2 linked regions of the Homo sapiens genome follow. The protein of the gene in region 1 interacts with the protein of each later gene in a biochemical or structural test. Each region holds a gene or a part of one and is shown in the gene's direction. Other genes may lie near its edges.

Evidence for each region.
Region 2: the proteins of LDB3 (region 1) and ARHGEF26 interact in a test that uses a peptide from one of them, tested with the Homo sapiens proteins (one large-scale study listed by IntAct).

The regions. Positions count from the first base shown.
Region 1 is NC_000010.11:86,713,364-86,717,213, forward strand, and holds part of LDB3 (LIM domain-binding protein 3), read left to right. Parts: intron 1-2,963; coding exon 2,964-3,408; intron 3,409-3,850. UniProt on the Homo sapiens protein: May function as an adapter in striated muscle to couple protein kinase C-mediated signaling via its LIM domains to the cytoskeleton.
Region 2 is NC_000003.12:154,253,890-154,257,389, forward strand, and holds part of ARHGEF26 (rho guanine nucleotide exchange factor 26), read left to right. Parts: exon of another isoform or gene 1-84; intron 85-830; coding exon 831-935; intron 936-1,441; coding exon 1,442-1,584; 3' UTR 1,585-3,500. UniProt on the Homo sapiens protein: Activates RhoG GTPase by promoting the exchange of GDP by GTP. Required for the formation of membrane ruffles during macropinocytosis. Required for the formation of cup-like structures during trans-endothelial migration of leukocytes.

The DNA.
Region 1 (3,850 bases):
AGCCTCCCGAGTAGCTGGGTTTACAAGGCGCCCACCACCATGCCCGGCTACTAGAAGTTTTAGTAGAGACGGGGTTTCACCATGTTGGCCAGGCTGATCTCGAACTCCTAACCTCAAGTGATCCACCGGCCTCAGTCTTCCAAAGTGCTGGGATTACAGGCGTGAGCCACCGCGCCCAGCCAATCTTAATCTTTTTTAGCAGAGAATTGCACTTCACAAAGAAAGGAAAGAAAATGTTGCACAGAACCCCCTTATATATAACAGAGGGATGAAGCTGCTCTGAAGTTGTGCTAGATCACCTCTCCCTGCTCTCTGTCCCTGGTGGTGTTCCTGGAATCACTTCTTCCCCCAGCATTTTGATATTCTCTGCAAAGTTGTTAGGGAGGGTGACAATACCTCAAATTTGGGCTGTACACATTTACAAAATCCATTCACTATGTCACCCCAGCAGGTCCCCAGCATGCCCTGTGGGGCAGGCAGGGTGTCAGGCATTCCACCACCACTGAATAGACCTCAGTCTCAGGTTATCTGACTTCAGGATGTTCCATTTCCCTTCCCTCCTCTCCCCCAACCCTAGGCGCTACCAGTCTAACTGGGCTGGGCTTCCCTAGGTGAGCAGCAGGCCATGAGACAGGCTGACAGTACATCTGACCCTGACACCCAGGTTGCCCCCATCCTTGCCATCCTCACTCACATTTAGTGACACACTATGCCAGGTACTAGGCTACGCTCTTTATATTTCTTACCTTCCCTTAATCCTCATAATAACCTTGTGAGATACTAAGAATCAGTATTGCCAGTTTTAGATGAAGAAATTGAGGCCCAGAGAGGTTAAGGAACTTGCCCAAGGACACAAAACCAGGAGGTAGTAGAGCTGGATCCTGCAGCCAGGGCTCTTGGCTATGCTATCAAGACTCCACAGCAGGGGGTCTCCTTCATGTTGAAAATGACTCCTCCCTGACATGTTGCACTGAGATTTTCTAGAAATTGGACTCATATTCTTTACAGAGGCAGCTTGGGATGATAGAATGAATGGATTTGGAGATGTATTCCCACTTACTAGCTCTGTCTGAGCCTCAGTGACCTCAAGTGTAAAGAGGGAATAATGTGAAGACCGATTCAGATGACAGATGCTATGTGCCTCGTTACCCCTAAAGGGGAGGAAGATTCCTTATGGAGAAGGTATTATCTTTTTTTTTTTTTTTTTTTTGAGATGGAGTCTTGCTCTGTTGCCCAGGCTGGAGTGCAGTGGTACGATCTCGGGTCACTGCAAGCTCCGCCTCCTGGGTTCACGCCATTCTCCTGCCTCAGCCTCCTGAGTAGCTGGGACTACAGGCACCCGCCACCACACCCAGCTAATTTTTTGTATTTTTTTAGTAGAGATGGGGTTTCACCACATTAGCCAGGATGGTCTCGATCTCCTGACCTCATGATCTGCCCACCTCAGCCTCCCAAAGTGCTGGGATTACAGGCGTGAGCCACCATGCCCAACCGGTATTATCTTTTGAAGGCCTCACTGGCAGGATGGCTCCAGGGCAGGGCTGTGGAGGGTTTTATCTCTTCTTCCTTCAACAACATGGATGGATCCTATCTACCTGGTCCCTACTCACCCCCAGCACAGGGATTTCCAGCTCACCCAGCTCTGAAGGGTGGGTCACCTGGGAGTGGAAGGTGCAGAGTGGGAGCCACAGGCTGCCCCAGGCGGTCCAGGGGAACCAGGTGGGAAAGAGAGACTGGAGATGGGGCCAGGGTCTTAGGCCCTAAGGAAAACCTTCCTCTCCAGGTTGAGGCTGGAGTATGGGGTGGGGGGCAGAGGCGGGGTGTGGGTGCAGGGACTGCCTCAATGCAGTCCATCCTGCCCATACTGAGCTCAGGAATGGGGAGGGAGGCTGTGCTGACATGCTTCCTAGGGTTGGGGGAATGAGGCCTCTTTGCTGAGGAGCAGACTGAAATGTGGTGAGGCTTCTGGAACCTCACTCACTGGAAGAGGAAGCCAGCTGGACCTTGCCTGCAGGGTGCAGCTGGGTCTGCCCTGGCTAGGTGTTGAGGGCCCAGGCGGGAGAGGGCTGTGGGTAAGCAGTGGCAATGCTTTTTCTGTGCTGTGAGCCCAAAACGTTTTTCTGCTCTCAGGGAGCTGGAGGAGGGGGTGATAGAAGTGAGGTGGTGCATTCTCTTCCCTGTGCTCTGACTGCCTGGGCAATCTTTAGACAGTCACTCAGACACACTCTCAGCTTCCACCAAAGCGATGTGGGAGTACAGGGGTCCCCCAAGGCAGCCACGGGCCAAGTGAGCAGCTACTTCTAGGCTGTGTCACCCTAGAGTCTCTGCCCAGCACCCTCTGAATGACTCCTTCAAGATCCCCCACCCTAATCAAACCAAGACGGAATTGCCCCCCAATACAAATCAAGCCAAGCTGTTTTTCAAGAAAGTAATTGTAGCTAAACCTGAAACCTGAACCTGAAAACCCAGCTACCAGGTCACCTGTTTTGTCCTGAGGGCTGACCTAGGTCCAGGTTCAGCAAACTTATGCCAAGGGAGGTATTTCAGATGTCAAATCACTGGTCAGAGTGCAACTGAAAGCATCTTGCAGTCAAAGGCGAGGTGACCCACTCCCACCTCTCCCCGCCCAGGTACCCCCACCCCCACTCTGCGTCTTATGCAGGCCTTGGGCAGTCAAGGCCTGGCGGAGCCCCACCCTGCACAGCTGCAAATATTTATAGCCATGTCCCTTTTCCAGCCCTGTCGAGGGTTCTGCTGTGCTTGCTCCCTAGCTCTGTGAACACCCTGCTGAGAATTCAAATCTGGGCCATCAAGAAGTTCAGGAACAAGTCTCCCAAAAAAACTGAAATTGTACTGCTCTAATGTTAAAGTCACCTTTTGCATTTCTCTGGCTAGGAGTGAGGGGAACTGGGAAGAATGAATTCCTGACACACCTTTCTTTGGGTTTTTTTTGGCTTTTGCAGTGCCTGCATCTACCTACAGCCCGTCCCCAGGGGCCAATTACAGTCCCACTCCCTACACCCCCTCCCCTGCCCCTGCCTACACCCCCTCCCCTGCCCCTGCCTACACCCCCTCACCTGTCCCCACCTACACTCCATCCCCAGCACCAGCCTATACCCCCTCACCTGCCCCCAACTATAACCCTGCACCCTCGGTGGCCTACAGCGGGGGCCCTGCGGAGCCTGCCAGCCGTCCACCCTGGGTGACAGATGATAGCTTCTCCCAGAAGTTTGCCCCGGGCAAGAGCACCACCTCCATCAGCAAGCAGACCCTGCCCCGGGGAGGCCCAGCCTACACCCCAGCGGGTCCTCAGGTGCCACCACTTGCCAGGGGGACCGTCCAGAGGGCTGAGCGATTCCCAGCCAGCAGCCGGACTCCACTCTGCGGTCACTGCAACAATGTCATCCGGTATGGTCCAGCTGTGCCCCTGCACTGGGGCACTGGAAGGGCGTGTGTGTGGGGTGCTTGCCCACAGTCTGAGCCCTGGTTGGGAGAGATGGGGGTAGGAGGCAGGTGTAGGGAGAAAGCCTCGGGTCCTTCTGGCTTGCCATCTGGTCTTACCTCTCTGAGCCTTAGCTGCCATACCTGTGTGACACCCACTCTCCCAGGGAGCTGGGAGGAATGGCATGAGGTATGTGGGTGAAGCTCCAGCAGGATGCCTGGTGCCAGGAACTCCCCCTTGGGCTAAGGTTGAGGTCTGGGAATCACCAGGCTTGTCAGTAGGTTTACAGGGCATTTTGTTAGACAGTGTTGGTTTTGACCCAGTTTTCCTTTAGGGTTGTTTCTGGGTCTTTCCACAGACAGGCCTGGGCTGCTCAGGGGGTTGGTGGGCATCTGCCAGACTAAAATG
Region 2 (3,500 bases), on another chromosome or scaffold:
GAAATCAAGCTTTGTATTAAAAAGCAAATTAAGAAGTCACATGTCAGCATTTTGTTTGTTTGTTTTGAGATGGAGTCTCGCTCTGGTGCTATCTCAGCTCACTGCAAGCTCCGTCTCCTGGGTTCATACCATTCTCCTGCCTCAGCCTCCCAAGTAGCTGAGACTACAGGCGCCCGCCACCATGCCCAGCTAATTTTTTGTATTTTTAGTAGAGACGGGGTTTCACCGTGTTAGCCAGGATGGTCCCAATCTCCTGACCTCGTGATCCGCCTGCCTCGGCCTCCCAAAGTGCTGGGATTACAGGCGTGAGCCACCGTGCCCGGCCACATGTCAGCATTTCTGAGGAGGTCTAACATGACTTCTCAGCTTTTGGTTGGAGCTCATTTTATTTCTAAACTTTTTTTTGGAAACTTTCATGTGCTGCTGTTGGGATGGGGAGACACTCTGATGAGAGCCAGGAGAACTGTGTCTGTTGCAGATTTTGCATGGCCTTGGCACATCAGCAACTCTTTCATGTCTCAGTTTCCCTAATGCAGAGTGGCTGTTTTCTGTTCCATTGTGTGACATGACTAATGACTCCTGATCAACCTGTTATTGAGGGGAATCATGCATCATAAAAGGCCTCTCAAATCTGAGCTTCTAAAATTCTAAAGCTTATAGCCAAGCAAGGGAGTTGCTAGAAAAGATGTTCTGCTTTTTATTAGAAGCCCAACTTGTTTCTCTCAATGCTGGCCCTGAATTGCAGAGAAAAATAAGTAAGTGTACATTATTGGATTGCACATGTTTTTTCTCTGCTACTGGAAACTTAGTATGTCCTCTTTTGGCCTCAGCACTGACCCAGGTGGAAATCGTTAGGTCATTTACTGCTAAGCAGCCAGATGAACTCTCCCTGCAGGTGGCTGACGTCGTCCTCATCTATCAACGTGTCAGCGATGGTGAGTGGGAGCGTTCTTATGGGACACTCGTGGTCCAGGATGCAGAGTGCTATAGACCCGAGGAGTGTCATTTTGTCATCATTGCCCATATTCCAAATCTTGACATGTTAATGTTTGAGATCACATATATGTACTGTCTTCTCATCTCTAAGGCTAAACCATGACGTTTTCTTTTTTCCCCAGTCCCTCAGTGACCCAGTTCTTATCTCTAAATATTCGTCCTTTCAAAAATAGCATTCTTCCTGCTATCCTTTACCCAAAGCATCTCCTTTCCCAGCTCAGCCCAGGTTCAAATACTCTCAGCCTTCTCACTTCAGGGCCTCTGCTCACGTTCTTTCCCTGCCATGTCATTCATTCCCCCTCGAAAGCTTTCCCTGTCCCACTTTCTCTTCTCACCGTAGCACTTAGCCTGGGGAGGGATGCTGCCTCTCAGCTTTTTCATATCCTTGGAGCCTGGCACACTCCAAATACTTGTTGTTTGGTGTGGACTCTGTTCTTTTTCACAGGCTGGTATGAGGGGGAACGACTACGAGATGGAGAAAGAGGCTGGTTTCCTATGGAATGTGCCAAGGAGATAACATGTCAAGCTACAATTGATAAGAATGTGGAGAGAATGGGACGCTTGCTAGGACTGGAGACCAACGTGTAGTCTCTCAGATGGTCTTTTGTTACTGCAAGATTTGCACGACACTTACCGGGCTGGTTGGTTCTGGGCTAGTTTTATTGTTAATTTTGTCACAGCCTATTTAATTAAAAGAACGAAAACACTTGCCTTTAAGCTTGCCAGGTTGTTCTGCTCTCTCATGAGAAGAGCTTGGATACAGTGAGTTTGCACAGCTCAGTTTTTACCTAACCACACACTTGCAGACCTCCTGAGGTACACAGAATAGCTGAGCAGTTCACTTCAGGGATCAGGTCATCTCTGCTCCTCCTAGTTTCACCATGTTCTGGCAATAAAAAACACATATTATATCCTGGTTTTCTCTATCCTTGCATTACTAAGGTGACTGTCTCTCTTTATACATCCTTGTATGGTTCTCCCAGTATTAGCAAGATTGTATATCTGTAAAGAATGTCCAGTTTTGTAAATATTTCCCTGCCTTTTTTTTTCTTTTTTTACATCTGATTTTAATGCTTCGTTAACTTCAAAAGGAACTGGTAGAGTTCAGAAGGTGAGCTGTTGTTTTTCTAAACCTCTTCCCAGGAAGGGGACATTGACACTTGAATTTTTGTCACCTTTTTCCTCATTAGAAGGAAAGTAGAAAGCCTTACTTTAGGATTTTTAAAAAAAAATCCATCTCACCCCATATTGTTCTTAAATAAGTATAGACTAATTAACCTAAGCTACCTTTAACAACGTAGAATTTAGATGGGTTCATATATGTGAGAAAAACCTGAATATAGGACAGGGGTCCTACTTTTTTCCCCACCTCTGTCGCCCAGGCTAGAGTATAGTGGTGTGATCTTGGCCCACTGCAACCTCTGCTTCCTAGGTTCAAGTGATTCTCCTGCCTCAGCCTCCCAAGTAGCTGGGATTGTAAGAGTATGCCACCACGCCCAGCTACTTTTTGTATTTTTAGTAGAGACAGGGTTTCATCATGTTGGCCAGGATGGTCTCTTAACTCCTGCCCTCAAGTGATCCACCAGAGAGGAGATCCTCGGCCTCCCCAAGTGCTGGGATTATAGGCATGAGCCACCGTGCCCAGCCTACTTTCTAATTAATTAAAAAAAAAAAAAAAAAAAAAAAAAAACCTTCCCAAATGAGCTGATAAAAAACTGACGTGAGGCTGCTTTGCCTTCAATAATACCTAGTTTTCAGCTGTTCCAACTCGTTTCCAAATAGAAATTAGCTGGAACACACTACAGTAATCTCAAGGAAGGGAAAATTAGGCCTTAAAAGATACCAAGAAGTCAGCATGGTACCCAATTGAAACCTTTTGACCTTAGTGGGAATTCATTCTATTTGCACTAAAAGCCTTAACTTGCTGTATTCAGAGTCCCTCTTAACTGTGAGTTTCTATAGAACTTTACTTTTTCCACTAGTGCACAGAGAGAGAAAGGTTATCTTAATAGTCGGTTTCATGGAGATGAAGGATGGGAGATTAAGAGGGGGGAAATGATTTTTACTGGCAGCTATATTCCCTCTCTGTTCTATTTGCTTTAACAAAGGGATAAAACCTGGCAAAGTGTACATTATTGGAGGACTCAAATCTGTATGTGACATGTCCCAACTACTGTCCGCTAACTAGTTATCCAAATTGTAAAGCTACAGAAGCCCAGTTGAGGGGTAAGTGTGCCTGGCTCACACAGCCTGCACCCTGTCACCTCGGCAATGAGCCAGTGTGGGGCACTGGGGACTTCTAACCCTTGGATTGCTCTTTTTGACCTGTGCATACCTTCTAATTGTAAAATATATTTCAGACCGTGAGTACCTTGAGATCTGAGCAACTGTGTTAATGAAGTAATAGCAATGGTCCACAGTGAAAGATGTGTTGGGGTTTGCAAAACAAGCATTCCGTCACCTCTTTAATAATGTCACAGACTTTTTAAAAGAGAGGCTATCAA